Linked DNA regions of Homo sapiens. The protein of the gene in region 2 purifies or fractionates together with the protein of the main gene of each other region. This does not show direct contact. Each region holds a gene or a part of one and is shown on either strand. Other genes may lie near its edges.

What was found.
Region 1: the proteins of COA1 (region 2) and COA6 purify together in Homo sapiens (affinity purification with western blotting, with the first as the bait; one study listed by BioGRID). This does not show direct contact.

Annotation. Positions count from the first base shown.
Region 1 is NC_000001.11:234,379,932-234,383,749, reverse strand, and holds part of COA6 (cytochrome c oxidase assembly factor 6 homolog), read right to left. Parts: intron 28-3,818; coding exon 1-27. UniProt on the Homo sapiens protein: Involved in the maturation of the mitochondrial respiratory chain complex IV subunit MT-CO2/COX2. Thereby, may regulate early steps of complex IV assembly.
Region 2 is NC_000007.14:43,638,620-43,642,704, forward strand, and holds the end of COA1 (cytochrome c oxidase assembly factor 1 homolog), read right to left. Parts: intron 2,031-4,085; coding exon 1,954-2,030; intron 1,063-1,953; coding exon 963-1,062; 3' UTR 638-962; downstream 1-637. UniProt on the Homo sapiens protein: Component of the MITRAC (mitochondrial translation regulation assembly intermediate of cytochrome c oxidase complex) complex, that regulates cytochrome c oxidase assembly.

The DNA.
Region 1 (3,818 bases), on a different chromosome or scaffold from region 2:
GTCTCTTCTTTTATCAAAATATTTTATCTGTTGGAAAAAAAAAGGATTTGAAATAAGGGCAAGTTATGCAGCTTAGATAAGCAAAAGCACAGATTTAAATGTAACATATTATTCAACATAAATTTAAGTGATTTATATTCTAGAACCATTTTGTGTGTGTGTGTGTGTGTGTGTGTCAGCTGTAACTATGAATGATGTTTTTCTTTTTTTTTTTATTATACTTTAAGTTTTAGGGTACACGTGCACAACGTGCAGGTTAGTTACATATGTATACATGTGCCATGTTGGTGTGCTGCACCCAGTAACTCGCCATTTAACATTAGGTATACCTCCTAATGCTATCTGTCCCCCCCTCCCCCCACCCCACAACAGGCCCCAGTGTGTGATGTTCCCTTTCCTGTGATGTGTTCTCATTGTCTAGAACCATTTTGAATTGAGGCATTTGATGAAAAAGTCTCTGAGGAGAGTACAGACCAGTGAATCCTAATCCTTTTTGGATTACAGACCATACTGAGAATTTGAATAACTCAGGAACCTTCTCAAGAAATGGACCCATGTGCACACAGGTCAGGCTTGCTGGCGAGTTCAGAGTCCACAGAGCTCTCAGGTAGGTCAGAAGGCTTCAAATGAGAACACATTGGACCATTTTTCTTACTTCCCTTCCCTTCCTTCCATTCCCTTCCCTCCCTCCCTCCCTCCCTCCCTCCCTCCCTTCCTTCTCTCTCTCTCTCTCTTTCTTTCTTGACAGAGAGTCTCGCTCTGTCACCCAGGCTGGAGTGCAGTGGAGCAATCTCGGCTCACTGCAACGTCCGCCTCCCAGGTTCAAGCTATTCTCTGGCCTCAGCCTCCCAAGTAGCTGCAATTACAGGCATCTGCTACCATGCCCGGCTACTTTTTTTGTATTTTTAGTAGTGATGGGGTTTTGCCATCTTGGCCAGGCTGGTCTCGAACTCCTGACCTCAAGTGATCCACCTGCCTTGGCCTCCCAAAGCGCTGGCAGGCGTGAGCCACCACACTGAGCCTGGACCATTTTTCTTATCAACTCTAAATTCATCTTCATTGTCAGACCAGAAAACACTAGTTCTTTTGTTAAAAGCCTTTCTTTGGATTTAATTCTTAAATATTTCAGTGGTGCTCGTAAGTAAAAATTATCTTGGACTGCAAATGTAAAAATCTGCCCTGTGCTGTATCAATCAAGCTAGGATAACAGACACACACAAAGTCAGCTGAAAGGAAACATGTCTCCCGAGGGTGTACGACAGCCACGGAGTGTGCTAATAGATCCGTTATTTGAGTGATTACTGCTTTCTTATTCATTGGGAAATCTTGTTCTCTAAAATCATTAACTACCAGAAATTTGCTGTTTGAAGTCTGATCTGTAAGAAGGAAACATCCCACTTTTGTCTAGAAGATCTACGGCGCCCTGACACAGAAGCAGCCTTGATCTCCAACCCAGCTCCAGGATGTCAAATAACATTTCTCAACATGAACATGACACTCAATCTTTTAACTTCAAAGAAAGAAAACCCTGGTCCACTTTTCGATCCAGAGCTGACGACGACACCTATGCTTTGTACTGAGGTTGTCAAAACACCATTTCATTTAAATTTTACCTAAACTCCATTCTTCCCCTAAACTTCTAATAACTCTCTTTTTCTTTGTTGGTAAGATGCCCACAGTTCTCTGGTGTGTGGTCTTCCTGGTTATAAGCATTCACAAATCAGACTATACATTCATCCCTGGTGGTCTCAGGCTGATTGGGCTAGGATGGATGTTATATAAGGATACCAAAGGAAGAAGTGGACATTGCCCTTAACATTTTTGTGACAAATTAATAGATGTTTGCATGTCCTGTCACATCTCCAACTGCCTAAGACAACTCCATTTAGAGGTCCTACTGATGTTGCAGTCCCAACTTGTCCAGAACTTTGCTCCTCTCCAAACATGTTTCTCCTCTAATACCTATTTCAATGAACGCATCACATCTACCTAGACACTTACATCTCTTTTCCCTTCTTCACTGCCACAGCACAAACCCTCATCATTTCTCACTTGGGTTGCTGTAACAGCTCTTTCACTGGCTTCTCTATTTCTAGGCTCAACCATCCTTAATTCACCTGTCCCAGGCTGCCAGAGTATAATCTTTCTGAAACCCAAATTTGATCAGGTCACTTGCTTGTTTGAAGATCTTTCAAGGTATCCATATTGCCTTTAAGGTTTCTAAGACAAACGAGGCCACTGATGGCTTCATCCCTGCGCCCCTGTCCATCCTCTCTGAATTCACCAGCAGTCCCTGAACTGTTTGTCCTACAGAGCTACCCCATGCTCATTTCCTGCGCGTCTTGATTCCATGCCTTTGCATATTACCACATTCTGCCTGGAAAGCTCTCCTCCCTAGCCATCACCTTCTCTTTCAACCAACAGCCTAAACCCTCAACACACGGTCCTTTCTCTAAAAGGCTAATGAATCAACAAGGATTCATTGAGAAATACTGTATACACATATGCGAGTGGTCTCTAAACCACTGAATAAGACCCAGGACAGTAGTGTGAATGCCAAAATACTGGGATTTCTGAGACATTTCAAAGTTTTATAGAAAAAAGACAATATATGAATTTGATATTAAGATCAAAGATCTTGGATATCTGGTTGCTCTGTTTGTGGAACTTTGTTAGATGATGCTAGAATGATAGGCCTGATCCCTGCTCCTAAGTTAGGAACAATAGGAGCCTTTTATTTTATTTTATTTTTGAGACAGTCTTACTCTGTCACCCAAGCTGGAGTGCAGTGGCGTGATCTTGGCTCACTGCAACCTCTGCTTACCAGGTTCCAGTGATTCTCCTGACTCAGCCTCCCGAGTAGGTGGGACTACAGGCGCGTGCCACCGCGCCTGGCTAATTTTCGTATTTTTAGTAGAGATGGGGTTTCGCCATGTTGGCCAGGCTGGTCCCGACCTCCTGACCTCAGGTGATCCACCCGCCTTGGGAGTGGTGGCTCACGCCTATAATCCCAGAAGACTTTCAATAGGACCATTATACACATCATACTGATGAGTGCTATAAAACAGATATGTGAGTACGAGAGAGAACTAATTTGTTTTGGTAACAGCTACCATATTAGTTGTATGGCATATTTATTTTGTAATAAGCATGTATTTTTGGTGTTTTGGGATAGAATTACTCAATCTAAATCCCAATTTGGTGGTGCTATTTTTTATCTTTATTTCGTGGCTGTCACATCAGCTAAGTAAAAGATCCAAATTTTGAAATCATAGACATTCAAATCCTCTCTCTACTACTTTACTGGTTGGCTGGTCTAAGACAAATTATTTTACCTTTCTGAACCTTAGTTCCTATTGTATAAAGCAGATACAAAGTACCTCACAAGACTGAATGAAAATTAAAGGCAACAAAAACAAAGCATCTCATTCAGAATGCACTCAAAAGAGATTTCCATTTACTTGCCCTCCCGTGTGCCTCCCCACCCTTATGCACACATATCTCTGGAAAAACTTTTCAGCTTTTATTCTGTGGCAATTGAGTAGGACTTTGACAAGGTAATACTTGAAAAGAGAGCACAGGTGAACAGGGAGCAAAGAACCGATAGTGAAGGGCAGGCTGAGAAATAACTCAGTTATGAACTAAGAAAGAACAGTGGTGCAGAAGAAAATGGGTGCAAATGGGAAACGGGCTATCACTGTCAAATGCTGCAGAAGTCAATGGGAATAATTTACTATACTACCTGCTTCCCTTCTTTGTTACAGTCATCTACAACTTTGCAGGTCACCATCTGATATGGTTAGGCTTTGTGTCCCCAC
Region 2 (4,085 bases):
GGCTGGAGTGCAGTGATGAAATCTTGGCTCACTGCAGCCTCTGCCTCCTGGATTCAAGCAATTCTCCCACCTCAGCCTCCCAGGTAGCTGGGATTACAGGCGCCCGCCACCACGCCTGGCTAATTTTTTGTATTTTCAGTAGAGACGAGGTTTCACCATGTTGGCCAGGCTGGTCTCAAACTCCTGACCTCAGGTGATCCGCCTGCCTTGGCCTCCCAAATTGCTGGGATTACAGGCATGGGCCACCACACCCAGCCAGATGCTGTTAGCTTCAAACTAACTTTCCTAAGTTAACTTTATATGTATATGTACACATATAAATTTTCTAAGCTTTCAAAATGTTTGGAATAAAAACAATTATTTTGCAAATCTTCAACTGGGCAGATGGTTGGTGTCTGAAATAGAAATAAATAAAAGCAAAGCAAACAAAATATTCCAAAGTGATAGAGAATGTCCACAAGCTACTTAACAACATGAATTCAAGGTAGAGTGAAAAACCAGTGGTCTTCCTCATCATTCTCAGGTCAATAATTTAGAAAAAATCCCTTCAGTGCTACTAAGCTTCAGGCTTTGTAATGAGGACTGAAAATTCCAGGGGAAAGGAAGAGGAAGAGAAAGGAAAGAAATGAGAACTAGCAAAGATCAACAAACATTTTATTAATTCTGATTCCTTTTATCATGTGCTTTTTTATACAAAGCACTTTCAAATACATTACATTATCTTAAATTTATAATAGGAGTTTCTTTCGGATTCAGTTTAAAAATGACAAATAGCATTTGTTGTGCCCAAGTTAGAATTACACCAAAATTACCATGTGCTGGCACATACCATCATCCCACTGGTGGCTGGAAAACTGGGTTGCAGGAGTGTCTGTCACTGAGATGGGCCACCACCCCAGTGGCCATATGGTAGAGATGAGGGAAGGATGGACTAGAAGCAAGCTGGGTCTTCTGGGTCGTCTCTACTCCTTTTTCACTTCATCACCGTTTTCCCCACTGAGCTTGAACACAGGAATCTGCTGACCATCCTTGAGCTCTAAAAAGACCTCGTCAAGGTGCCACCTGAGAGAAACCAAAAGTATAGTATCTCTAATCTATGAAGGCTGAGGCAACAGCCGTAGTCAAAAAAAGGGGCGCGGAAAGCAGTTGTTTTGAATAATGCCTTAAATTTTTTTAAACATTATTTTGTGCGAGTGCTGTGTCAACACAATTTTTAACATTCTACCATGGGCTCTCATTATTTAACCAGCTTCGACTTCAAGGCAGGCTTAACAATGACTGACAGGCGAATGGAAGGGACATCAGGAAGAAGGAGCAGTTTATTTCTCATTTCCTAATTCACAGTGACCTTCAGTTCCTGGCATGGAATCCAGCCAGCTTGTACACTAATCCCAGGCTCAGAGGTCAGTGAGCCCAGGGTGAGCTAGGTGGGGCCTCCTGCTCCTTTTGTCCTTGGGAATTAAAATACAGCCTGGCTAAACAGCAAACATCTATGAGAGAGGCTTCCCGTGGGGGAAGTGAGTGGATGTAGCTATTGGCAACCAGACAAGCAAAGCCAATTAAGGGGTGGAGAGCTTATGCAAAGAATGTGATGAATAAATTCTGGAACAAGAGTCCATGCCCTTTATTCATTTATAACAATTGAGGCAGTCAAGTGAGAAGCTGTAACATAGCATCAAATTATGATAGACCCAGATCACTATAACTGGAAAGTTTTACAAATTCAACGGCATAAGGAGAGGGCAATTCAGTAGACTGTATGGATAAACTGGACTCAGCTAAGAGCCGCAGTACTGGCTTGCTGCCCAGGCCACGAAGCTTTCAGCTTCAAGCTTGAAAAATAATTCTTCCTATGCCCACAGTAATTTAACAACAAATGAAAACGGAGTTGGGGTTGCTTTCATCAGGAAGTCTTCCTCCCGCTCCCCCACTGCCGTCACCTTCCCAGGATACCTCTGAAAGGGGCCACCTCTGGATGAGTGGACGTAGAGAAGGCCCTCTGATTTGGATCCAGAGACAGGAATCTTCAACTGTGGGTGTAAAATGACAGAAAGGAGAGATGTAATTGGATAATTATTGTCATTTCAGAAGATGACAAAATGATGCTTTCTAGAGCTAAGCCTATAAAATCCAGTGATTCTCCACAGAAGTGAGTTCTTTTCTAACAGCCCAGCTGGAGAATCCACTTGATTTTCCAAATGTCCTGCCCCTCTTTGGTTGGCTGGTAAGGTCAATGGCAGTCTTTCCATTTGGCAAGGAGGACTCCTATGTCAATGCTCTGGGTACTTCCAATGATCGCTCAAAAGTCCACTGTTAAAAAGGAGCAAACTCCTGATACACGGAGCAACATCGATGAATATCAAAAACACACCAAGCCAAAGGGCTTTACACAGGAGGAGTATACAAGTATTTATGTTAAATTCTAGAACAGGCTAAACTGTCCTGGAAACCTGTTGTTATTTTGATGGATTACAAAGTAATTTTCAAACATCATTTTAAAAAAAAGAAAAGTGACTGCCTCTGGTGGAGCTGGAAGATGTGAGAAGGGACCCATTGGGTAGGGCACGAGGGAATTCAGGTGCTGGGAACAATCTACATCTAGATAACGGCTTGAGTGACACAACTGGGTGTATTTGTTAAAACTCATCAGATAGGACGCTTGGATTTGTGCCTTTCACAGAATGTAAATTTTACCTCAAAAAAAAAAAAAAAAACCAGGAACCATAACAAATATTAAACTCTACTTAATGATATATGTGCTTATGTGTATGATGTTTGAAAATTACTTTGTAATCCAACAAAATAACAATACAGATTCATGGAAACAGAGCAAAATCCAATTGTAGAATCCAGGTACCAGCTATAGGTGCTCACAGTATAAATTCTTTTGTCTTTTTTGTACGTTTGAAATTTTTCACAATAAAATACCAAAAAAAATTCACTGTTTTAAAGAGGGACCTATTGCCAGGAAATTGGTACATATTTTGACCTGGACCCTAAAGAACAGGCTTTAAAGAAAATACAATACATGAAGGCTTGTCTGAGAAAGACAACACAGAGTTCTCAGTTTCTCCTTCATCCCCAGCACCACAGGCTGGGCTCGTACCACAGGGATGCTGCCAGGTGCTGCCATGCCCATGCTCAGGGAGTCAGCCTGAGAGCCCGTAAGCAGTTGATCACACTCCGATTGAGAAAAAAAACAGTGAATGCAATATTTTTGGTTTCTCATGAAAACCAAAGAAGGTATGAGCCTCGCGAAGGAGACACAGGCACAGTTAATAAGGAAGCCCATCATGAGACAGGCATCTCCCAGAGTGCCTTCCTGTGTCCTCGGTGATGGCCAAAGATACCTCCCGGGGCAGGGGCAGGGGAGGGAATTGGGGCGGGGAGTATCCCACCCATTCCAAGTTGCCACCAAGAGAAGAAACTACTGAGGTACACATTTGTGCTTTCCAAACACACCTGAAGGAAGGCACAAGATTTGGAACATGGCTCCATAACTCAGGTGAATAGGCAGTCACCTAGTCACACTTCAAGAACAAATCTTTGGCCGGGTATGGTGGCTTCCGCCTGTAATCCCAGCACTTTGGGAGGCTGAGGCAGGTGGATCACTTGAGGCCAGGAGTTCGAGATCAGCTGGGCAATATGGCAAAACCCCATCTCTACTAGAAATACAAACACTTAGCCGGGCATGGTGGCGCACACCTATAGTCCCAGCTACTCAGGAGAGTGAGGCAGGAGAATCGCTTGAACCTGGGAGGTGGAGGCTGCAGTGTGCCAAGATCACACCACTGTACTCCAGCCTGGGTAACAGAGCAAGGTTCCATCTCAAGAAAAAATTTTAAAAAAGAACAAATTTTCAGGGTCCCACTGTTTGAGTCAAGCTACAGCTTTTCTCTGGAAATTATAGAATTAAGCAACAGAGTATACACTGAGCATCTCTGGATGCTTTAAAAAAAAATTTAAAAAGGAAGGAGAAAGAAATGGGCAGAAGCAAGAAGGATTCTGAAGAAGAGCAAACTCTGAGGGGCCAATGTCTGAACTGTGGGCAGCTGTGCTTCCATGGGTAGATGTGACACTTTACA